Linked DNA regions of Homo sapiens. The protein of the gene in region 1 interacts with the protein of each later gene in a pairwise test. Each region holds a gene or a part of one and is shown on either strand. Other genes may lie near its edges.

Region 1 (3,500 bases):
CTCTGTGGTTTTATAGGTCAAATAAAGTCATCCTGCCAACCTAGATTCAAAGGGTGAGAAATTAGACTCCATCTCTTGCTGATAGGATCTGCAGTCACATTGCAAAAGGATAGGTATATAGGGAGCGAATAATTATGACCACTTCTGCTAACAATCCGTAGTAAGGACATGCTGCATGAGACAGGGAAGCCATTACTTCCTGAGGGCAGGAGCCGTGTCTGTCTTGCTCTCCCAAGCCAGAGTCTAGCACATTAAAAAGAAAGTACTTCTGGCCAGGCACAGTAGCTCATGCCTGTAATCCCAGCACTTTGGGAGGCCAAGGCTAGTGGATCACCTGGGGTCAGGAGTTCGAGACCAGCCTGGTCAACATGGTGAAACCCCGTCTCTACTAAAAATACAAAATTAGCCAGGTGTGGTGGCACATACCTGTAATTCCAGCTATTTGGGAGGCTGAGACAGGAGAATCGCTTGAACCTGGGAGGCAGAGGTTGCAGTGAGCCCAGGTCGTGCCATTGCACTCCAGCCTGGGCAACAAGAACGAAACTCCATCTCAAAAGAAAGAAAGAAAAGAAAGAAAGTACTTCCAAAACATCCAAAGCATTGGACAGATTCATGTCTGTTGAATAAATGATGAGAGGGCTGAGGATATTTCAGGAGATGTGGCAGGCATGACCCCTTCATCATGCAACTGACGAACAACCTAAATGACTATGTACCCTAACCCTCTTACCGTCAGTAATGGGAAAATATTCAAAATAGGCCTTCTTCCTTTTCTCCTCCTCAGCCTTTGCTACTCTGATCCAATGTTATTTATACTTTTCAAAAAATCAGTTACATTCATGGTTGTTTTCTAATTTTATTTCTAACGCGTACTTTTGATAAGGAGACCAAGAGATTGATTCAGTGCCCTAAAGAGGTCTTTCCCTAGCTGAGTATGAAAAAACAAAAAAGATGGTCTCGTGTTTTTTTTGTGCATGCCTGGGCTCAGCCTACTGCTCCAGCTGTAGCCTCTGTGCCTGATTTATGTTCAGCTTGCTGTCTTTATGACTTTTAGATCTTTATTAGGTAGACTAAGGCATAGGCATTCATTTTCCATCTGTTCTCAGTGCAATTTAATTTCTCCACACACGCCCTACACTGCTGTTGTCCTATTGAACTCCACTTTGCTTTCAAACCCTTCCCTTGTTTATTTCGATCACTTCAGGTTCAACTCAAACCTGAACTGTTGGCCACTGCTAACCTGCCTTGCCCACTTGGTTTCCACCCGCATCATATTATCTAATGCATTTTCTTTTTGTTGTTATTGTTGTTGTTTGTTTGTTTTTTGATTTTTAGTTTGAAATGGAATTACTCTGTCGCCCAGGCTGGAGTGCAGTGGTGCGATCTCAGCTCACTGCAACCTCTTCCTCCTGGTTCAAACGATTCTCCTGCCTCAGCCTCCCCAGTAGCTGGGATTACAGGCATGCGCCACCACACCCAGCTAATTTTTGTATTATTTTTAGTGGAGATGGGGTTTCACCTTGTTGGTCAGGCTGGCCTCAAACTCTTGACCCCAAGTGATCCGCCCACCTCAGCCTCCCAAAGTGCTGAGATTCCAGACGTGAGCCCCTGTGTCTGGCCTCTAACGCATTTTATATCTTGACACGTAGGTGATTATTGAAAACGTTTAGCATTATATGGGGAAAAAAGCAACACTGTTACATCAGTTGAATTATCACTGAAACGGTAGAGTTTGGTGCAAAAGTAATTGCGGGTTTTGCCATTACTTTCAATGGCAAAAACCGCAATTATTTTTGCACCAGGCTAGTACTAACAACCACTATAATAATAATGCTGCCTTACATTTATATGGCAATGTACAGATTCAAAAGTGCTTTTATGGGCATTATCACATCTGCTTCCTATAACAACTCTGATGGGTAAATGTAAGAAAATGCTCAGGGAAGTTAAATCATTATATAAGATCAAACAGCCAGGAAGAGGTAGAATCCAGACAAGCACCCAGGGCTTCGAATATTACTCCACAGCTTTTCTCTGCTTTCCTACACAATGCTACTTTGCACTCAATTATTATCACATGGTCTCAGCCAGATTCTCAACATTTACTATGAGCTCCAGAAAATGTAAGTTCTTAAGAACTGCTCTAATAAATTATAGTTTGTTATGTGAGGGTCCAAGAATCTGCCTTTTAAATAAAACAATAAACTGAAATCTCTTATTTAAACTGTACCTTCATCTCCAAAGTAGCACATTTACTGTTTTGTCTAACCTGTCTAGCCATTTCAGTCAAGCTGATTGACATGAATGTTTTCACCAAATGAGTTATGTGTTTTGTGAAATAATGTAATTATCCTTGGAAAAAGCCTTAATATTCTGACATATCTACCCGTGGGTCTTACAGGAAAAAGCAATATAATAGTGATAAAGTGAACGTCGTGGCATGTCCTGCTAATTCCTTTCCATTAATATGGCAAGTCCAGTCCTAAACCCTCTAATTACTATTATTAAAGCACTTTCTTGACATTTTAATCAAAATAGCGGGTCAAGAAGTTAGGAGATGCTCTGTATTTGGTTTAACTGTGAACTATATTATCCCCAGCTAAACTAAAAGCAGAAGCCTACTTTTAAAATAAAATACATCACTCTCAAAAGTTGATCTCAGTTTTTTTTACAAGACATCTGTGGAGAGTTAATTTGGGAAAGTAATTGTTTCAATTCAATGGGAAAAAAAACTCAAATGAGAATAGCTCACAAAATTACAGCAGTGGACAACATTAATGCTTATTTTGTGAATGAAATCAAAATGGCTATTCTTTCAGTTCTACAGTTTAAAAAGAAAATGGTTCCGTGTGTGTGTGTGTGTGTGTGTGCGTGTGATATAGGCATGTCTCTTTTTGCATGTATGGAATTAGAGTAAATGTAGGTTTAAAATTAATATTTCATGCATAGCAGAAGAAATTAGTATGTGTTTCTATAAATTATTGTGATATGTGAGAGAAAATGTTGTTTAGTTAAAAATGTGTTTATCCCTAGAAAAATTTGGCTTTTAGACTATTCATAATAACATATATTGACCATTTTGTGTCTGGGATGGGATATCTTATTTAATCATATTAGATATGGATTGTAACCTCTACTCTATAGTTGAGGAAACTAATGTTTAAGGAAGTAACTTGCCCAAGGTCATAGTTAAAATGTAGTGGCTGAGGGTTGGGTGCAGTGGCTCACGCCTGTTATCCTAGTACTTTGGGAGGCCAAGGCAGGAGGATTGTTTGAGGCCAGGTGTTCGAGACCAACCTGGCCAACATAGCAAGACCTTGTCTCTACTAAATTTATAAAATTTTAAAAATTAGAAAAAAAATTTTAATTAGTGGCTAACTATTGACTCCAGTTAAATTCCATCTTATAACCCAGGCTTTTAATCAATGTGCCCTGATATATTCCAGTCTATTTTTCACTCTTCTCAGCATGGTCTCAGACCTGAGAAATTTAGGGAAATT
Region 2 (3,500 bases), on another chromosome or scaffold:
GTACATTTATGGATGTTAAATGACATAAATAAGTAAACTAGACACATACTTTTAAATATAGACCATTATTTGAGTGGGCTTGATACACTGCTAGGATATAACCACACCTAAGGTGAAAGCTCACCCCTACAGGGTATAAGTGATACACGGAAGTCATTATTTGCACTATGGCAATATTCCACGAACTCTATTCATAAACATAGAAGGAGAAGAGAGGTGTTGTACAAAGGATTTTGCTGGTTTCAAAGCACATACAACTTTATTTCCTTTCTATGTAAATATTTGACATAGCTTCAAAATATATTGATTTGGGGAGCAGAGAAGAGCTCTATGAGAACTGTTTGCAGGAGTGGTCGTCAAGGTGAAAACACTGAACTGGCTTTAAAAGAGACACATACTGCAAACTGCTGTGTACTTTGTTGCCATGTGAGAGACCATTATCTGGGTACATGAATTTGACTGGTAGGTCTGTCAGTTCATGGTACAATCAGTGAGGCTAGGAAACTATTACTTATACTCGATCCATACTCAAGTCAAAAGTGGATGGTCTTGGTCATTTCCTATCACTTCCCTTTCCCATGAAAAATAATTCAAACTTCAAACAAATTAGCAGTTTGTCCATAGCCTGGGACCAAACCCTCCTCTACCCTGGAATGAGGAGTGAGGAATATCATTAAGCATTGAGAAAACTGTCAAACATCATTAATAACATTTGGATATGAGTGTTCAAATAATTTCTACACCATACCTCCTTAGTATTAAAGGGCCATACTGCCACAATATAGTATTATTACTCAGTAAAGTAACGGCTAAACAGACATTTATTATGTTAGGGTTTTAATTCAGGACAATCTGTGGTATCCATAGCAACAAAAAGTTGTTGGTATAGATATAACCACAGTGTTACACAAGATGCAATAAAATAGACACAAACAGGGAAAACAATTTCCTAGAGCTAGAAAGCTTTTAAAGATAAAGCACATAATACCAAAAGTAACTGTAATAAGGAGAAAAAAAAAAAGAGTACCTAAATGAACAGCTGTTGCTGCACAGGGAATGTTTAACGTAAACTGAATTATAAACCCAGGCTAACCATGCCTCAGCTGAACCCACAGGAATAATAGGCTAGGGCCACCCCAAAGAGATTGATGTGGAAAATAAATCCAGAGCAATGAAAAGAGCCAGTCGGATATTGTCAGATTCAAGTATTTCGTTTCTGCTTTCTCTTGGTAAGTGATCTAATTCATAAAACACTGACATGGTAAAAGTGGGTAGATATTAGGAGAGCAGGTACTCAATCTTTTAATCACTTACATGCCTAGGAACTCACAAACTACCACAAAGATGGGTGAAACTCCCTGTCAATCATCTTTGAGGAATCAGCTGAAGACTACATATCTTATTTGGGAAACATGAGAAAATGGCTTCCACAAATCCCAACCAGTAAACTTACTCCTGGAGAATATTCTGGAATAGATTATTAAAAGGATGTTTGTTAACACTTATGAAGTAGTGTTTGCTAAGAGAGGCAGGGTTCACGAAAATATTTTGACAGGAATACTCAAGTAACAGCCCCAGGAAACCCATCTGGATTATAGAAGACTTGGCCAGGTCTTGCATGATCAAAAGTCCTTGTGAACAAGAAAGAAAACTAAGTGCATGCTGATGTAATCAGGTGGACTGGAAACTGAATGACTGCCTGTGCTCAAAGCATGAATCTTGAGAGCCCAGCAAGTACTCAATAAATAATTTGTTACATGAACTGACCAAGAGTCAGATCCCTCTAGTTCTCCAGACTGTGAAATACAAGGTCTTTAAAGCTTTCCTTGTTATGGAACAGTTTGAGTCTCTTCACTCTTCTGGTTCTAAATCTCTTCCTCAACATACTCACCCCCATTACCCAGAATAGTTAACAGCTACTCTCTCCCAACCATGGGAAAGCACTGAAATAAAGCACTTTTCACTTAGTAGAGAATAAAACAGCATCTAATCCAACAAGTTCATAGAGTAAGATTTCCACAAACGCATCCATAAACTTCCTTGATCATGTGAAATTTCTATATATTGGTTCTCTTTCTTTTGATCCTCTTCTCAAGAAACTTCCAAACCACTTATTTTATTTTCAACTGCCTTAACTTCCTCATCCCAAATAAAGCACAAGATTTATTTATGCTTATGAAAACATGCAAGCCATAATTTACCTGCCTTACAAGCAGCAGCAAAAACTCAAATTTACAAGCCATTTTACCTTAAAACTGACTGTTCCAAAAAGGAAAAATCAAAGTAAAATATTTTAAGTGCCACCATAATTTTTCTTAATTGGTAAGAGAAATGATGATGCTATGCCATCCACGTTTATGAATCTTGTCAAATGACAAAAGAGGTTAATGTGCTCGGCATTTAAAAATTTTCCTTTTTAGATCTAGGCATGGTATTTTTCAGAAAACCCATAATGTAGTACGTCACTTTTTAAAAATGACAGCAACATGTCTTTATCATGGATTAAGCAAGTTTAAGAAATACTATTTTTAATCTCAAACAATGCACTGAAAGTGAGTCTTAATTTCAGAGTTTTATTGTATTGCACTAAAGGAACAGCAGGATGGTTATACAATTTTCTCTCATTCAGTTTTGAAAATCTGTAGTACCTGCAAATTCTTAAGAATACCTTTACCACCAGATTAGAACAGTAAGCATAATAACCAATTTCTTAATAAGTAATGTCTTACAAATAAAAACACATTTAAAATAGCTTTAAATGCATTCTTCACAAGTAATTCAGCATATATTTTTATATCATGTTTACTTATGCTTAAGAATTAAAGCAAGTATATTTATTACTCTGATGGAAATATGGGAAATCTCTCATTCATGCAATATACAGGGATAATATTCAAGCGAAGGGAAAATTCCCGCTTTTTATTTTTGTAAATGTATCCATATATAATCATCGACATGACAGATGAGGAAACCCATGAAGTTTCCCACTAGTCAGATATACATTTTCACTTCATCAGAAGCACCTGATATCTACAGCTAATTTATAATTAGATACTGTTTCAATGAAACCAAAATGAGCCCTACAAGTTCCTATAAACAAAAGCTTCCAATGTACTAGGACAGTCAGTAATTAATGCATCATTCAGAGGATTATGGCTGTTCCTTAAGAAGTGCAAGTTCAAACCTGTCAACACCAGAGGTAATCATTTTATATTAATTTATACGTAATACCATTTAAAATCTTTATCTGAGTATAACATATGAAAACAGTCTTTCCACAAGCAAAAATGTGGAAACATTTAAAAAATAAGGAGTCATTTTTTAAAGTAACTGATCAGATTCCACAGGCTACTCTTGGACAGGATCTTGCTGGATAGAATCCCTTCATTTGGTGGCTTTTTGCATGCACTTAACTGGACCAATTCTTCTGTGTGTTGTTCTAAGAGCTCACCAAAACATAGATCATGCTGAAAAGAAGAAAAAAGATGTTAATTTGAACA
Region 3 (3,500 bases), on another chromosome or scaffold:
AAACACTAGATGCTGTTCCTCAAACTCCTGCCACACACGGCAACCTACACGGTCCCAAGCGCCGGACACTAACTAAAAACAGACAGGCTCAGGAACACGTGAGCCAACACTCCCGAGAGGCGAGACTCGGGCCGGACGGGAGGCGAGGTCATCAGGGTTGGGAGTGGGTGGGACTAGAAAGATGGGTCTGAAAATAGCCTGCACCCCCTTCCTGGTGCTTACGCGGATCTACACGCATTGCACCGACACTCTCTTGGTTTTGGGGCTGCGCTGTTACGGAAAGGTAAACATTGGGGGGAAACTCGGTGAAGGGTACACAAGCCCCCTGTGCTACCTTTGCTGCTTCCTGTGAATCCAGAGTGATTTAAAAGTCAAAAAAGGGCTGGGCACAGTGGCTCACGCCTGTAATCCCAGCGCTTTCGGAGGCCAAGGCGGGCAGATCACCCGAGGTCAGGAGTTCGAGACCAGCCTGGCCAACATGAAGCAACCCCGTCTCTACTTAAAAAAAACGAAAAAAAAAAAAAAAAATTAGCCGGGCATGGTGGTGCACACCTGTAATCCCAGCTACTCGGGAGGCTAAGGCAGGAGAACTGCTTGAACCCGGGAGGTGGAGGTTGCAGTGAGCCGAGATCCTGCCACTGTATTCCAGCCTGGGCAACAGAGCAAGACCCTGTCTCAAATAAATAAATAAAATAAAACAAAATAAAAGTCAAAATAATGTATAGAGGGGAACTACATCAAACTTTAAAACTTCTACACATCAAAGAAAACAACAGAGCAAAAGGTAACCTATGAAACGAGAAAATATTTGCAAATGTGATAAGGAATTAATATCTGATAAGGGATTAATATTCAGAATACATAAAAAAACTCAGGGTCAGGGGAGGTGGCTCACGTCTGTCATCCCAGCACTTTGGGAGGCTGAGGCGGGCTGATCACTTGAGGTCAGGAGTTCAAGACCAGCCTGACCAATGTGGCGAAACCCCAACTCTCCTAAAAATACAAAAATTAGCCGGGCATGGTGGTGGGCGCCTGTAATCCCAGCTACTCAGGAGGCTGAGGCAGGAGAATCACTTGAACCCAATAGGCAGAGGTCGTGGTAAGCTGAGATCACACCACTGCCCTTCAGCCTGGGCGACAGAGGGAGACTCCGTCAAAAACAAAAACAAAAATAAACAAAAAACCAAAAACCAAAAACAAACATAAAAAAGCAGCGTCTGAAAGTCCCACTTGCACGCCATGTTCACAGCAGCACCGTTCACAATGACCAAAATGCGGAAGCACCTGCTGTGCCGATGGATGAGTGAGTCAAGGAAATGCAGCCTCTCCCCGCAATGGAATAATTCAGCCATAAAGAGGAATGACCACCGACCCGTGCTGCAGCACGACGGGCCGGAGGACACTGTGCCCCGTGAAATAAGCCAGTCAGAAAAAGACAGCTCCCGCAGGTCCACTCGCAAGAGGGCCCTGGAGCCGTCAGGTCCCCTGAGGCAGATGGCAACGAGGGGGCTGGGCAGCAGGAGGAAGGGAGAGCGTTGAATGGGTGCAGTTTCAGTTTGGCAAGGAATGGGTTGTGTAACACTAAGAGCGTGCTCAACCCTACTGACTGCACTCACGGATGATTAAACGGTCATTAAACAAAATGTTTTTTAGAAACAAGGTCTTGCTATGTTGCCCAGGCTGGTCTCTAAGTCCTGGGCTCAAATAATCCTTCCGCCTTGGCCTCTCAAGTAGCTGGTATGAGAGGCGTGCACCACCATGCCTGGCTCAAAATGGTAAATTTATGGTATGTGTTCTTTACCACAGTTTTTTTTAAAACTTAAAGCAGGATTAAAGACCATTTGCTGTTCTGCTCGGCCTGTGTTGCGTCCTAACATTCAGCAGGCCTCTGCCAGGACCAGGCTAGACGCTAGGCACAGAGGATACAGCAGCTGCCCCGCGGGGGGATGGGGGTTACAGTCAAAGGAAACAAGGTGACACACAAAGGCCACAGAGACCAAGGAGAGGCCTTTGCTGTCCATGCAGTGTCCCCATGGCGTTAAGGCAGAGACCTAAAGCAAGACAGACACTGAACAGCAATGCTGGAGGGCAGGGAAGGGCAGGGGACAGCAGGGGAACCCTCCCAGGCTGGCAGAGGACTTCCTGGAGGCCAGAAAAGAACCAAGGGGCACTTCCTCAAGTACAGCAGAGCTCAAGGGGCCACTGGCGACGACCCCAGACCCTCCCCCGCAGCCTTGCTGCGCCCACAGTTCTTTCTCAGGCTGCGGTCTGTGGCTCCGGGTGCCCAGGCAGGACACAGTCCCACACTAACCCAGACCCCTGCCCTGCCAAGGTCTTATGTGGAGTGTCCCAACATGAGTTCCCAGGGATGTCCTGCAAATACCCACCTCCCCTCACTGCCCCCTGAGACCCAAGTGTTTCTGGCTCCAGCCGCTTTCCCTCTCAGTTCTCAAGGAGTTCTGCTTCCTGCCGCCCACACACGGCCAGGGCTGGCTGACCTCACCCTCGCCCTGTCCCAACACCACCAGATGAGCAGTGACTGGCTTGGTCAATTCACCACTACACCACACAAAGCAAGACCGGCCTGAGAACAGGAACAGCAACCCACAGGCAGCTCTGAAGGGCCTGGGCTTTCAGCGGGCACCCAGCCTCCAACAAGCCACTCCACAGTCTGCCCTGCCCAGGGCAGCCACCTCATAGTGTTTGGCCAGCTGTGCCCACGCTGAGGTGGCAACGACACCACCAGCCAACCTGAAAATCCTGCAACAAACCCTAAAGAGCCTGGAGGCAGCTAGGACCAGTTCTCATGTTCACTGGAACAGTCCCGTCAGCAGGGGATGGCCTGGGTTGATATTTTAGCTCAAAACAGCTCTGGAGGCCTTGAACCCAAGGGCAGCTTACAGTACCCCGTCTGTGGCCACACTGGGGTGCGCCTGAGCCTAACTGTGAGCTGTGCCCACCAGTCAGAGCAGACCCTCCCCCAGAAAAGCAGCACCAAGAAATCCAGTAGCTACTCAGGAAGTTGGACAGGAAAGTCACAACGAACACGAATCCCTCTTGTGTTGCTGGTTTTAACACGACCGGGCACGACTCACGTTTCTTCAGAGCGTAGTTTGTGACAGGCACCGTGCTCAGCGCTATGCATGCGTTAACTTTTTCGCAGACGGGAAAACTGGGCAACAGGGAGGCTACAGGCCTTGCAGGAGGCCATCGGCGAGTCCGATGCTCAGAGCACAAACGCCTGGCCTAAGAGGTGGTGTCTTGGCCTCTAGACTCCGCCTCTCCAGTCTGTCTGCAGGGGAAGGCTGGGGCCCTTCAGGAATGGGGTCCTAGCTTCCCATGGGCTCCCCTAGAGATGAGCCAAATTCAAAGCCTGTTCATGTGCGCAGCAGGGCTGACCTCCAGGCTCCACAGCGCATCCCAAACACACACTCCCTCTGTCCTTTCCCCCCGTCCGCCTGCCTGAAGATCTTGTGCTCTTCAAGCCCAAGCCTTGTGAC
Region 4 (3,500 bases), on another chromosome or scaffold:
CCTCCACCTGGAGAAAAGGCAGAGCTCCTGTCAAAGTGGAAGAAGGGAGCTAAGAAGACAGGGCTCCCAGGATCCAGGAGGTGTGTGGGGCACAGCAGCTCCTTTCCTGGCTAAGCAACTCCCTAATTCCACAAGTAAGAACACTTCCTACCTCCTCCCCTGCCCTGGCCTAAGGAGGAGCCTAGAAGGTCTCTCAGCAAGCCTACCACCCACTAAGTGGCCCCATGCAAAGTTGAAGCTGGGAAGCAGCTGAACAAGGCACCAGCAAGGAGGAAATGGGACAGGCCCTAAAATAACCTAGGGAGTGGCAAGGCTGATCCAGTGGCAGAGGAAAGCTTTCCTGGCCTCCCAGTAAAGCCCAGACCCGCCTCCAGGGAAAAGGCCTACTAAGGCTGTCAAGTGCCCAGAAGGTTGGGATGTCCTGATGGGCAAGAGACCCCATCCACCTTGGCTCAATGAGTATCTGTATTTGGGCCGAACCCTAGGACATAGGCCTGGGCCTCCCAGCCCTACCTGCCTGCTCCTCTTCCTCCCCAGATCAGCTATTTCTCTGGGTACCTCTGCCCAGAACAAGAATTGGACCAGAACTAGTACCTACAAGGAACCACATCTGGGAAACAGGGCAGTGGCCAGACCCACCACCACTCGGGGTAAAGACAAGCCCATCCAGGATGTGTCCTCAAAGCAAGAGTACCAGGAAAACAACAGAGGCATGCCAGGCCCCAGAGCATCTCCTTTGGGCTGAAAAGCCTCCTGAGTCCCATTACTGGGAGGAGAGGGCAGTCTGCTTAGAACCTGAGGCTTCCAGGTACGAGCTAGTCCCAAGGCTGGCCCCACTGCCCCTTCCTGAGTGGTGTCACAGTGCCCTGCCGACCCTATTGTGTGAGGCTATAGCGAAGACAGCCATCTCGGGGCCCCTGCCAAGCCAAGACCTCGCTGAGTCTGGGAACTGGACAAGACTGATAATCTTCCAGGATGCAGGAATGAGAAATGGTGTCAGCGGCCCAGACCAAATGTAGTCATTGGGTTCAGGGTTAATACAAACTGCCAACCCCAGGCCCACAACCTACACAACCTGACAGGGACAGCAGCACCATCTCTCAAACCCAGGCACAGAGGGCTGCCCTTACTCTTCCCATGCCAGCCCACTGACCCAGAGCTACCCAAGTTAAGGGGGAAAGTAGAGGCAGGGCCCTTCATTTGCACTTGTACTCCCAAGGGAATAGACGAGCTGCACTGGCCCATGACTAGGTGGTTGATACGGGACCTCGTTTGCCCTCCTAGGTGCTACAGGTCAACACGCCAACCCCCAACTTCCCTGGGAAGCTTATGCCCAAAGGCACACGGAGACAGGCACCAGTCAGGACACGAGATGATGCAGACAGCTAGGCCAGAGGACAAGCCTCATTCTTCAGGCTCGGGAGGAAAGAAAGGAGTCAACAAGATACCAGCCCTCAAAGGTGAGTTTACTTAGAAACCTTTCAGGAACCTTCCTCTATAACCCTACACCTTCAAACAGAATCCTAAAAACAGCTGATATCTGACCAGGCACTCACCACTTTCCCCAGACTCTGCCTTCCAAGCATAAGCTCATTAAATCCAAACAGCCTTCTGTGGTTGGTACTGTTTTCAACCCTGTTCCCAAGGCCCAGACAACCAAGCCATTCAGCCAAGGTCACACAGCAAGGGAGTGCTGAAGTCAGGATTCAAACTCAAGCAGACCAGCTTCAGAGCTGCGCCACACAACCCAGGGGCATCCAGGAGTCCCGGAAATTGGCCCTAGTGAAAGCGGGCTGCACAATGGCTTTTCCCTGCACTGTGCCGCCTCACATGGCCCAGACAACCTGCAGGAGGCTGGGACTAAACCAGAGAGGCAGGCAGGGTCCCTAAAAGTACAAAGTCCCAGTGGCATGAGGTCCTCAGGCAGGACTGGATGTCAAGTGTGACACCCACCTATTTAAAGAACTGGGTATTGGGCCATATCATTATCAATTAGCCCCCACAAAACAAAAACCCTGAGGTAGGGATTCTTTTATCCTCATGTGACAGATGAGGAGACATACTCAGACAGGCCAAGTGACTCACCTAAAGTCACACATTGGTTAGCAGTGGAGCCTTGATTCAAACCCAGAAGGGCAAATCCGAAGCCCCTTCCTCTCACACCTCGTCTCACCTCACCTCAAGGACAGTTCTAGTGGGCAGAGAGGAGCTCGTGCTTCCAGACCTGTCCCACATAGTTAACCTGCTGCACAGCAAATGCCTGGACTCCACCTGGCAGAAAATAACCATGGAGTAACCAGGATAGGGGGCGGCCTGAGCCCTCAGGAAACATCCCAGCCCACATTCCCATTGCCTTTGTTGAGGAGGTCAGTCCTGGGAAATCCTACTCCCTCACCCCTTCCCAGGCTCCACCCAAACTAAGTGCCTCCAGGGAGGGCAGGGAGCCTTCTCTCCACACACACTGAGGGAGGAGGGAGTGTGACACAGGCCTACATCAGAACTCTCACCAGCCTCTGTGAGGCTGTGGTCATGCCAGCCAAATGACCACAGGCCCCTGCAGACCTAGTGGCCCTGGGCCTTGGTTCTCATTGGACTAAGGGAAAGGGGGCTTCAATGGCAGTCTTGTTTACTAAAGGCAGAAGCAAGTACCACCAGTTCCCCAACCCACTCCATGCCTGGAGCAAACACCACCTCCTAGGTAGTAGATGTAAGCAGCAAATATAGGCCCACTTGGGCCACATAAATTGAACTAGCTGCCACACCCATCTTGCCCCAGCCAGGCTCCCCATATAAGCAAGCAGGCAGGTTGCTTAAGCCCCAAACATAGCAGCAGAGGTGATGGTGGCACAGGGTGGGGCAGGAGGTAGAGAGCCAGCCTGGCAGACAGGATGGGCCCACAGGCACAGTGATAGCAGCCCAGCCACTAGGGCCTGTCCACAGGCCAGAGCTGGCCAGGATCAAGCGAGGCACTCAGGGTCCTCTCAGCTCCTTCCTTCCCCTCCAACACTGAAGGCTCCCAGAGGGACCAGGCCCCAAAAGGGAGCCTGAAGTCACTTTCCAAGCCCCCAGCACCCACCGCAGAAGCAGGGCTAAAGGCAGAGCAGTTTTTCTAGTCAGGACCCTTCCCCAGTCATGCAAGGGCAGTATGGACCAGTGTGTGTAAGGGAGATCTGTGACTGACATCCGCCTACATGTGATCCTTATCTCTGAACTCATACCCCATCCCTTGCATACCTTGAAGAGGAATGGCCCACACTCCATGAATGCTGGGCTCTGAGGTGGGTGAGTACACCCATGAGCCCCTGCCAGGGTCTGTCCACTTCCCAAAAGACTTCTTCCCCACCTTCCCATTCCCAACCATGCCAAGGGTTTCAGGGATGGAGAATGGAATCCTTCCTCCTGCCTCACAAGAACCACTCACCCAGACCTGCAGCCTCTTCCCATACAGGACTCCAGGGCACAAGGCTAACAGCTCCAGCAGCAGCTACTATGAACAGGTC
Region 5 (2,835 bases), on another chromosome or scaffold:
CACATTTTTGTTGACGTCTATTTTTTCATAACTTTAAATAGTTAAAAAAATTGAAATTTTCCAAGTGTTATATATTCTATTTGTCCTTTAAATAGTTTCATCCAAACCCTGAAGTGGAAGGTTTAGTTCATTTTAATTCATAAAAGACACTTGCCGTATATTGTAATTGGCAAGTCCTCAACATGACACTAATTGTTGAACTAATCAGTCAATTCAGTCTTACTTTTTGTTAGAAAATGGTTGACAGTTATTTAGTATAAATAAATGTGTTGATATGTGTTCTTATGACCAGCAGCACCCTTTTGGATTGTAGGTGCTGGAGAGTCAGAATAGCTGAGTGACTGAGTGCACAATCCCTAAAGTGCAATTTATGAGCTGAGTGACCTCAGGCAAGTTACTTAATCTCTCTATTATAATATTTCTACCTATAAAATGGGAATATAACTGCTTTCTTCAAGGGTTAGTATTTATAAAATACTTTGAATGTAGTATTAGGTGTGTGTGTGTGTTAAATAAACACATTTCTACCAAAAGATAAAATTCAGTGCCTTGCTATAAATTTGTCACAGAGATGAAATGAACTATACCTCCTTTCAATATTTGTTACTGGAGCTCTTTTCTCAGTATGTTGTACTCCTCTTTTTATGTCTGTATTTATAATTCTCACAATCATTATTAATTTTCCCAGGATTCCATGGAAAGCTTGTGTTTACCCTCAATAGTTAGAGACGTACAAGGATGGAGAGGGAACAGAGCCATCTTCCCAGAACCAACTTCTGCCAGAGGAGTCCCATGATAATCCCAGCCAAAAGAACGAAAACATGAGTAATGGCTGTGACATAAGAAAATCCTAAGAGAGAAAACAGAGAAAAAGTTTTACGTGAGCGCCACATTCCAGTTTGCAGAGTTAAGATAGATGAGGACATTCATTAAATTCATGTATTAATTCTAATTCAAGATGCACTGAATTTCCATCATGTGAATCAGATGTTTTATTTATTTCTCTCTCATTGTATGGATAATGTCTATAACTAGAGAATGAGACTCAATCCTACCTTTTCTTCCAAACTGTCTATCTTCACTAGGGTGGAGTTCTTGTCTATGCAGTCCTTTCTACTGTTAGCCCAGGTTTTCTCCTCATTTGTTGTAAAATAGTAGCAACTATTTTGGTACCATTGCCACATCTTAGGACATGGATTACATCTGTGGTCTGAAAAGGAAATTATACCCAATAATATAAACTGAAGACTCTAGAGTGACTGGAGAAGGCTTTGAAACAAAATCATGTAATTGAACAATAGGGACTGAGAGCCTGCACCCTGAAAGCATACTGCTTTAGAAGCCTCTGAAAAAAAAGTGACCCCTGGTTATGGGTTGGGGCAACAGGGATTCTCTTTTCATGGCTTAGTCTTCTGACCTCAGAATTACCAGCTATGCCTTTAAGCTTTCAGAGCAACATGATCACCTAGAAATAGTTAATAAAATGAGGGGTTGAAGTATCCAGATTGATATCATTCCAAGATACTTCCCAAATTTGCCTGTGGTTTCAAAAATATTAAATGAATTTGTATATTTCCTTGCTGTGTGTAAATTTAGTGCAACATCATTAAGGTTCACTGGATGACATAACTCTCTCAATACTCTTAGGTGGTACATGTGATCAACTTAGACCAGGATAACATATGCCATCTGACTGGTCAGCAGGACTAAGTCTGATTACCTGAAGTATGAATGATTAGCTCTTGGCACAGTTTGATGGCCATTTGTTCCTGCCTCTTCAGTACACTGGAGATCTGTGACTTGAGAAATTCCTCCTCCATGGACAAGTTGTTGGAGTTGCCCAGTTGCTGGGATAAGTTATCCTGCTGCTGTTGGATGGTTTTCTGAAGTTGACTCAATTTCTCTGAATCTGAGTTAATGTCATTAGATATCTGCAAAACTCCAAGACATGACAGGAGACAAGTTCATATATTCTTCTATTCTTATAACTGTAGATAATTCTCGTGACAGAAACATTTCTTAATTGTTCAAGATTTATTAGTAGCTCTTAGTATTTGAGGTATCATGAAAGAAACAAACCAGATGCCTTTCTATTCCAAATTATTTATAGTTCTTTATAATTTTATTTACATTTTTATTATTGCACTATATTAAAATAATGATTTAATAATGATATATTTCTGACATCACATCTAAGGAAGGGCCAGTCATTCTGCCACTCATTTTCATGAAATTGTTTTATTTTTGTTTTATTTTATTTGGAGATAGATGATGTAATTGTTGTTTTAATGAAAACAGCATTCTTTGGGACAATGGATATCTCAAACTCTGCAGATGACCTGAGATGCTTGTTTACCAAAAGAAAAGAAAAAGCAGATCTTAATGGCATATCAGACCATTTCTCGTCATGGGTCCATGAAATATGCCCTTTTCATAAGCATTTAAGGTGCTTCATCAGCACAACAAATTTAAGAACCACTGCACCAAAAGCACTAAATTTTAGAAAAGAAATGTCACCCTTCTATATCGAACCAATGGACGTACGTTATTGCATTTTCACTTAATTTTTAAATATACATTATTGTAGAAGATCGGCTGCTAATCCTCATACTGATTGGCTCCAGAATATCTGTTACTGCTGCTTGAACATCATATTCCTTTTCAAAAGAGCAAGGTACATCATTAGTCTCTTTTTATGTTGGCAAAGATATGTCCAAATCCTAATTAACCATTAAATCCTAAAAAATTATCCATTAAATCATTAAAAAGAAATGAATGTAGCAGAGGAGATGTTAGTATCATTCAGCAAATTAACTTTCTTGACTGTGAGTTCCC
Region 6 (4,127 bases), on another chromosome or scaffold:
GTGATGACAAAGACCTCTTTGTTTTGTAGCTAAACCTGTGATGCTCACGTTTTCTCATTCACTATTTTTCTACAGTAGGTAGACCCACTTCCCTCTAAAATCTGAATAATGAAGGAAAAATCTTTTATCTAAAAGAAAATGATTATGGTAAGCATTATACAGGTAGAAGTGAAACAAGCTTCATTGATCTGGTTATTGAAATTAATGTGGTGGCTGTCCAATACAGTCAGTTTCAAGCTTTAATGTGTAAATTTCATATTAGAAAGCTTTTTTCTGTTTTTCTTTTTTTTGTTGTTGCTGTTGGTAGTCAGAAATGATCTTTAGTTTCTGTTTCCTAAAGAAAAAAACTAACAATCTGAAAATTTTAAGTGTTCTACTTTAGCAAAACCACATGCTAAGCCAACCTCAAAGTGTTATTTCCACAACAATGACCTTTTTCTTCTTTGAACAGAAGTGGTTTGTTTTTAGGATATTACCAGGCACTCAGTGCGGCAAGATTTTATGAGGCTGAAGAGTTTTCAGTACCTTGTGATCCTCTCAGATTTAAAATGGTGGCCAATCTCTTCTCTCATCCTTTCCCTCAAAACCTTCGTATTAAAAAAAGAAAAACAATTCCAAAGACATTTTTCTTGATATCCTGATATTGTCAGGTCATTTGAATAAAACCTTTCCTTTGTTCAATGAAAAATCGCTAACATGGGGATATCTACTTTAGTGGTGAATAAACAGAAATGCTGACTCCAACCTGCAGAGTCCAAATGCTGAACTTTCCTCGGCACAGAAAGCATATATAAGAAAAAAAAGTGTTTATGCACACAAGCGTGAATTTGACAGAAAGGCATGCAGATAAATAAACTAGATCTGTAGTTCAGTATTGCTTCATATGCCATGTGGTATATGTAGCCTGAGGAATTTCTGAAACGCAGGAGTGAGTTAAGGTGTAGAGAGATTTCTGATAAGATTGATTTATTTGGTTAAGAAATACTTTTCTTAAACCTATTTTTAAAAAATAACACTCAGTATTACCATAACATGCACATTTGAAATGTGAGAACTATAAGAGATGAAAATCTGACAGGTGCAGTTAGTGAAACACAAAGCAGGAGGAGTTGAACCAAAACCATCAGTTAAACATTTTGCATTTAGACTTAATTCTTTGTTAGAAAGGTTGGGAATAACATGAAAGCCATTTTAACCTTGACAATGAAAGGAGATTATCACTTAATTATATTTCAGTGACAAACTGCTTTCTGTCAAATCCAGCCCACAGGACACAAACACAATCTTGGCCACACCTTGGCATTACTGGTTGGCGGCATTATTTCCCTATCCTTTTGTGAAACCCATTCAACATGGAATCAAACAATAGCAACTCTGGCAAGAATCCTCCTATATACACAATGAAGAAATATTTCTGAGTTTCATAAGTTATAACACAAGTGTCACACTTCTTTTCACAGCAACCGAAGGGCAGGAGTTAGTTTGGCTAAAGCTCTCAGGACATTATAATGGCTTTAGTATTTAGAACTGTAGCTCAACTAGCTGGAGTTTCATTATCTTTGCTGGGATGGGTTTTATCCTGTCTTACAAACTACCTGCCACACTGGAAGAACCTCAACCTGGACTTAAATGAAATGGAAAACTGGACCATGGGACTCTGGCAAACCTGTGTCATCCAAGAGGAAGTGGGGATGCAATGCAAGGACTTTGACTCCTTCCTGGCTTTGCCTGCTGAACTCAGGGTCTCCAGGATCTTAATGTTTCTGTCAAATGGGCTGGGATTTCTGGGCCTGCTGGTCTCTGGGTTTGGCCTGGACTGTTTGAGAATTGGAGAGAGTCAGAGAGATCTCAAGAGGCGACTGCTGATCCTGGGAGGAATTCTGTCCTGGGCCTCGGGAGTCACAGCCCTGGTTCCCGTCTCTTGGGTTGCCCACAAGACGGTTCAGGAGTTCTGGGATGAGAACGTCCCAGACTTTGTCCCCAGGTGGGAGTTTGGGGAGGCCCTGTTTCTGGGCTGGTTTGCTGGACTTTCTCTTCTGCTAGGAGGGTGTCTGCTCCACTGTGCAGCCTGCTCCAGCCACGCTCCCCTAGCTTCGGGCCACTACGCAGTGGCACAAACACAAGATCATCATCAAGAACTGGAGACGAGAAACACCAACCTGAAACACTAAGCCAGAAAGGACAAGCGTCTGCTGTTCAGGAGACGCTTGCTCAACACTGGATTTGGTAGGATGTCCCGCTCTAGTCATCTCACTGTGCTTTTGATTTTTGAAAATGCATCTTTTCCTGTGGCTATTAAACTATAGTTTCTTTCCAAGACTGGTAAACCATTTTTATCTTCTAGTCTGAGACCAAAATCAATCAAGACTGAATAGTAATGACACCCATTACTGTGGATGAGTTTTCTCAATTTTAAAATAGCGATTGCACAGAAGTGGTAAATAAAACATTAATCTCTATGTATCTTTGAAGGTATTATTCATATGGAGCGGAATCATTTGGCAAATCATTTACTTATTTCAGGTGTTTAAGATAACCTAGTATAATAAGCCTGAGGTCTTGTTGCATATTTATTTAAAATGCATGACGTCTTATTATATAAAATAATTACTAGCTCTTTAGAAGCTTCAGAGGTGAAAGGTGTAGACACATCATCTCCTTCTGAATCAGAGACCTCAGTGTCTCTATGGAACCTTTTTCAAAAGGCAGCCACATTCAGTCACGCCTTCTATACTGTCAGAGGCAGGAGGGCGATCTTGGGTTTTGGATGATTCAAGTAGACTCTGCCACACAAACGTGCTTCTGCATCCTGTGTTCTGTATTTCACGGGCAGCGTTTCTGGCTTCCCAGGCACTGAGCAGCCTGTGGGGGGCACGGCAGGGCAGGACTGGGGTGTGTGGGTAGATAACCTCCTGGGACGGCTGCCTCTCTGTGGAGCACACTGCCAGCCCAGGCGCAGCGACCACAGAGCACATATTCTGGAGCCCTTCATTTTATTTGCTCAATGAAAATACTTCGTCCTTTTTTATCAGCAATACATATAGTTCCAACAAGAACTATTCATCACAAACTGCCAGCCTGGGGATTTCTTCATGAAATATTTTGTATTTGCTTGGTACATGGTTCAAGGAAACTCTTGTGTTTGTGCCAATCAGGGAAATAAACTGAACAATAAACGACACTGAAATAGAGTATTAGGCAATATGTAGCTTTGTTTTTGCTTTTTTTTTTAAAAAAAACCACTGAATTTTTTTCCACCCACAAACACATGGAAAGTGCAGAAACCAGTTAATCTATGTGATGTATTTGCATACGTTTACAAACAAGACAAATTAAAACAGAAACATGTTCAGAATTTAACCTGATTAAATATTAAGTTCAGTCCTGAGCTTTTGATATTTAAGACAATATAGATAAAGCAATAGCAAAAAATTTTAATTTATTTGATTTGCATGCTACAGAGATTTAGCTAAACTTTGTTCATTTGGCTAGCAATATTCTTTTTGTACCTGTAACACTTAAGATTCTGATATACAAAATTGTAATAATATACTGATAATTCAAACTTGAGAACTAAATATTACATTCTTTTTACCCTGTGCGAATAAATTCTACCTTTTAAAAATAGTATTTATAATATTAAAATTCATATTTGTCCATATGGTTTTGTGATCAAGTTATTAAAATGTTTTGTCACTGTGAATCATTTGGGTTAGTACAAATATGACAAGATTATTAAAAGCTGCCTATAAATACATAACACTATTGCTGACTTTTAAAGTGTAGAAAAAGGATTATATTAAAATAAGTTCATCTCTCATGTTAGAAATGAGGAAATTTTGTGAAATACAACAACCAAAAGCATCTTGGTCACAACTGCTAACTACCAGCCTGAGACAGATTTTATTCTTTAATACTTGTCTGAAACTTTTTGTATTACAAAAAGTCAACAGCTAATCTGATGAAAGACTTATAAAGCTGTAAATATTCCAATATAGTCTCTTCTGTGTCAAATATTTAAAATGGCCAGAATCAAACTATATATTAAACAGAACATAAATAAGACTGTAAATAAATAAATGAAGAAAATAAAATCGTACGGAACAACTACACATAATTCTATAGAC
Region 7 (3,500 bases), on another chromosome or scaffold:
CCCAGCCAGCTCCACAGGGTTTAATACACCTGTCCATTCAAAAGATCTGTTTTTACCAGAGTATGACAGAAAATGCTGATCATTTTCTTTCTGGAACCCAAGATGGTATTCCCTGCCTCTGAACGCATAATCAACCTTCTATATCTGCGGGTTCTGCATTCCTGGAGTCAACCAACCACTGACCAAAAATATTAAAAAAAAAAAAAAAAAACAGAAAACCATTTGTCTGGACTGAACATGTACAGATTTTTTTTCTTGTTACTGTCTTTTAACAATACAGTATAACAACTGTTTACATAGCATTTACATTCTATCAGGTATTATAAGTAATCTAGGCCACACACAGTGGCTCATGCCTATAATCCCATCACTTTGGGAGGCTGAAGCGGGTAGATCACCTGAGGTCAGGAGTTCAAGACCAGCCAGGCCAACGTGGTGACACCCCATCTCTACTAAAAATACAAAAATTAGCCAGTTGTTGGGGGGTGGGGGTGGGGAGGGGCCTGTAATCCTAGCTACACAGGAGGCTGAGACAGGAGAATTGCTTGAACCCAGGAGGCGGAGGTTGCAGTGAACTGAGATTGCACCATTGCACTCCAGCCTGGGTGACAAGAGTGAAACTCCATCTCAAAAAGAAAAAAAAAAAAAAAAGACAAAACAAGTAATCTAGAGATTATCTAGAGGTTACTTAAAGTATATGGAGGATGTGTCGAGACCATCCTGGCTAACATGGTGAAACCCTGTCTCTACTAAAAAATACAAAAAAAAAATTAGCTGGGCGTGGTGGCAGGCACCTGTAGGCTGAGGCAGGAGAATGGCATGAACCCGGGAGGCGGAGCTTGCAGTGAGCCAAGATCGAGCCACTGTACTCCAGCCAGGGCGACAGAGCAAGACTCCATCTCACAAAAAAAAAAAAAAAAAAAAAAAAAAAAAAAAAAAGGATATGGAGGATGTGTGTAGGTTAAATGCAAATACTATGCCATTTTATATCAGGGACTTGAGCATCCACGAATTTTGGCATCCGAGGGAGGTCATAGAACTAATCCCCCAGGGATACCGAGGGATGACTTTATTAAAAGTCAGAGGTTATTTCTACAACCAGCAGCACGATGTGCCGTACTTCTCTGCATCTGCCTCTCTTCTTTCCCTCCTTGCTCAGAGAACCGAGCCCCTTCCTTTTCTCTAAGGCTGCATCCTCTAACTGTGATCTTGACCCTGTCCATGCCACTGACTTCAAGTCTGTATTTCATTGCTCCTTCTCCCACTTCCAGAATCTTTAATATCATATTCTCTCCTTTTCTTTATCCTGGAAACACGCACAGATCTTCCCTATCCTTTAAACAAAACAAAAACAAACCTGCTTCAGTCCAACATTCAACTAGGGTTTACCGCTCCTTCCTTCTAAGCTAAACTTGGAAGAGTTGGCTGCCTTTGTCTACTCCTCACCGCCCCCTCACTCCCCAACCTCTTGTAATCCTCCAGTATGCTACAGAAACAATACATGCAAAGACCATAAACACACTTATCTCGGCTAGCTGCTAACAGTAAGCCAAAACCAGTGTGAGAGAGAGACAAAGACACAGATAGAGAGATGGCTGCAAACCGTTGTGAGGCATCCGCCGTACGTGGGCACTGCTAGCTACTTTAACTATATCATCTTGTGCAAGACCTTCAGCAACCACAGGTGGAGGTTATCAATCACTCCACTGCTCAGTGAAGGAAACGGAGGGCCAGAGAAGTTAAATAAGTTTCTCAACAAACATAAAGAGATCTTGAGATTTTAGTTAACCACAGAGTTAATATGAGTCAGCAATGACACATAGTTCTCAAAAAAATAACTCATACGTAGATTATTCTAACAGAGTCGATGCCCGGATCTCAGGAACAGCTTCCCTGTACAGAAGACACCTATCTGCATAGGTGTTCTTAGAAAGAACACAGGAAGAGGAGAGGAGACCCAGTGGCAAGGGACTTCAGAAACGTTAGGCCGAAGAGGGGGATATTACAGCTGACACTGTAAACACAGAAAGAGCAGGCACAGTCTAAGTGATTTTAGGGAACAGCACCAGGACTGCTGGGTAAAACGCATAGGGCTGCAGATTTCAGCTCAACATAAGAAAGAACTTCTTGAGCAGGGAGTGCTTGAATGAATGAATTGGAGGCAATATGCATGGAGCAAGTGTCTACTCTCTAAAGTCAGATGATTAGGTTTTAATCCCAGCTTCACGACTCCTGACCTTGGGACTTTCAACCAAATTCTCCATGACTCACTTTGCTTATCTGTAAAACAAGAATAAATAATAGTATGTATTTCTAGGCTGGTTTCATGCCTGTAATCCCAGCACTTTGGGAGGTCGAGGCAGGAGGATGACTTGAGGTCAGGAGTTGGAGGCCAACCTGGCCAACATGGTGAAACCCTGTCCTTACTAAAAATACAAAAATTAGCTGGGCGTGGTGGCACATGCTTGTAGTCCTAGCTACTCAGGAGGCTGAGACATGAGAATCACTTGAGCCTGGGAGGCAGAGGTTGCAGTCAGCTGAGATTGCGCTACTGCACTCCAGCCTGGGTGACAGAGTGAAACTGTCTCAAAAATAACAATAATAATATATATATCTTTATTCACTTGCATACACTTATAAAGACCTGTCTTTGTGCCAGGCAGTGTCCTGGGTGCAGGGGAATAAAGCAGGGAACAAAATAGGTACAGTGAAGGAAAGGTCAGCCTACAGCGGCCCCTCCAGTCTCTGCAAAGGCAGTTGCATGAGTGGGTGAGTGCAAGGATTAAATGGTGCAAAGATTATATGAGATAAAACTAAGCACAGCAGGAAGCGCCATTCTTCACACAACGCAAGCTTTCAATCCATGCAACAATAGGAAAGGCAAGCTTGGAAGTTTGTGAGTTTTCCAAACACTGCAGTGTTCAGGAAGAAGCAGCCGGTGGAGGCGGTGGAGGGGGGTGGTTGGGGGTTACTGTAAGGAAGATTCCTGCTTTGGGGGAACTTCATGAGTCTATGATTCTGCTTCTAGAGCCTGTCAAATCCCAGGTTGGATGGCAAAGTCTTCCAATACGGTGCTTGTGAGGTTTCTTGTGAGTGTGTGTGTGTGTGTTGGGGTGGAACTAGTAACAGCAGCTCCATTTCCCTCCTTAGCACTATGCTCACAAACCCTTATGATTGCAGGGCCATAATGTCGCCAAAACTTGGAGGAGGCTGCCTCTCTTGGGGGAAAGAGGCCGCTGCTAATGCCTGCCAGCTCCCCCTACAACCAGAGCAGATGTGGAACAGCCTCCTGCGGGAGGACATCCTTCCTCTGCCATCACTAAGTGTAGCTCAGGGGCACTGAGCCCCTCCCCTCAGCTCACATTTCTTCCCAATCACTTTCTCCAAATACAGTATGTGCTTCCCAGGTTTGCATCATGTCTAAGCTGCTGGTACCTAGGCAGAAGAAGTTGGAGGCTCTCTGCCTGCTACTCATAAGAAATGCGTCTGTGTAATTAAAA

The links.
Region 2: the proteins of OPRM1 (region 1) and CNIH1 interact in binary tests that used the Homo sapiens proteins (3 or more experiments, as listed by UniProt).
Region 3: the proteins of OPRM1 (region 1) and CLCN7 interact in binary tests that used the Homo sapiens proteins (3 or more experiments, as listed by UniProt).
Region 4: the proteins of OPRM1 (region 1) and TEX264 interact in binary tests that used the Homo sapiens proteins (3 or more experiments, as listed by UniProt).
Region 5: the proteins of OPRM1 (region 1) and CLEC12B interact in binary tests that used the Homo sapiens proteins (3 or more experiments, as listed by UniProt).
Region 6: the proteins of OPRM1 (region 1) and CLDN22 interact in binary tests that used the Homo sapiens proteins (3 or more experiments, as listed by UniProt).
Region 7: the proteins of OPRM1 (region 1) and ALOX5AP interact in binary tests that used the Homo sapiens proteins (3 or more experiments, as listed by UniProt).

The regions. Positions count from the first base shown.
Region 1 is NC_000006.12:154,094,740-154,098,239, forward strand, and holds part of OPRM1 (mu-type opioid receptor), read left to right. Parts: intron 1-3,500. UniProt on the Homo sapiens protein: Receptor for endogenous opioids such as beta-endorphin and endomorphin. Receptor for natural and synthetic opioids including morphine, heroin, DAMGO, fentanyl, etorphine, buprenorphin and methadone.
Region 2 is NC_000014.9:54,424,375-54,427,874, forward strand, and holds part of CNIH1 (protein cornichon homolog 1), read right to left. Parts: intron 3,468-3,500; coding exon 3,440-3,467; 3' UTR 1-3,439. UniProt on the Homo sapiens protein: Involved in the selective transport and maturation of TGF-alpha family proteins.
Region 3 is NC_000016.10:1,468,529-1,472,028, forward strand, and holds part of CLCN7 (H(+)/Cl(-) exchange transporter 7), read right to left. Parts: intron 3,236-3,500; exon of another isoform or gene 3,096-3,235; intron 1-3,095. UniProt on the Homo sapiens protein: Slowly voltage-gated channel mediating the exchange of chloride ions against protons. Functions as antiporter and contributes to the acidification of the lysosome lumen and may be involved in maintaining lysosomal pH.
Region 4 is NC_000003.12:51,677,752-51,681,251, reverse strand, and holds part of TEX264 (testis-expressed protein 264), read right to left. Parts: intron 1-3,500. UniProt on the Homo sapiens protein: Major reticulophagy (also called ER-phagy) receptor that acts independently of other candidate reticulophagy receptors to remodel subdomains of the endoplasmic reticulum into autophagosomes upon nutrient stress, which then fuse with lysosomes for endoplasmic reticulum turnover.
Region 5 is NC_000012.12:10,013,627-10,016,461, reverse strand, and holds part of CLEC12B (C-type lectin domain family 12 member B), read right to left. Parts: intron 2,658-2,835; exon of another isoform or gene 1,940-2,657; coding exon 1,721-1,939; intron 1,577-1,720; exon of another isoform or gene 1,211-1,576; coding exon 1,056-1,210; exon of another isoform or gene 851-1,055; coding exon 735-850; coding exon of another isoform or gene 716-734; exon of another isoform or gene 1-715. UniProt on the Homo sapiens protein: Inhibitory receptor postulated to negatively regulate immune and non-immune functions. Upon phosphorylation, recruits SH2 domain-containing PTPN6 and PTPN11 phosphatases to its ITIM motif and antagonizes activation signals.
Region 6 is NC_000004.12:183,317,600-183,321,726, reverse strand, and holds CLDN22 (claudin-22), read left to right. Parts: upstream 1-1,450; 5' UTR 1,451-1,508; coding exon 1,509-2,171; 3' UTR 2,172-3,627; downstream 3,628-4,127. UniProt on the Homo sapiens protein: Plays a major role in tight junction-specific obliteration of the intercellular space, through calcium-independent cell-adhesion activity.
Region 7 is NC_000013.11:30,738,543-30,742,042, reverse strand, and holds part of ALOX5AP (arachidonate 5-lipoxygenase-activating protein), read right to left. Parts: intron 1-3,500. UniProt on the Homo sapiens protein: Required for leukotriene biosynthesis by ALOX5 (5-lipoxygenase). Anchors ALOX5 to the membrane. Binds arachidonic acid, and could play an essential role in the transfer of arachidonic acid to ALOX5.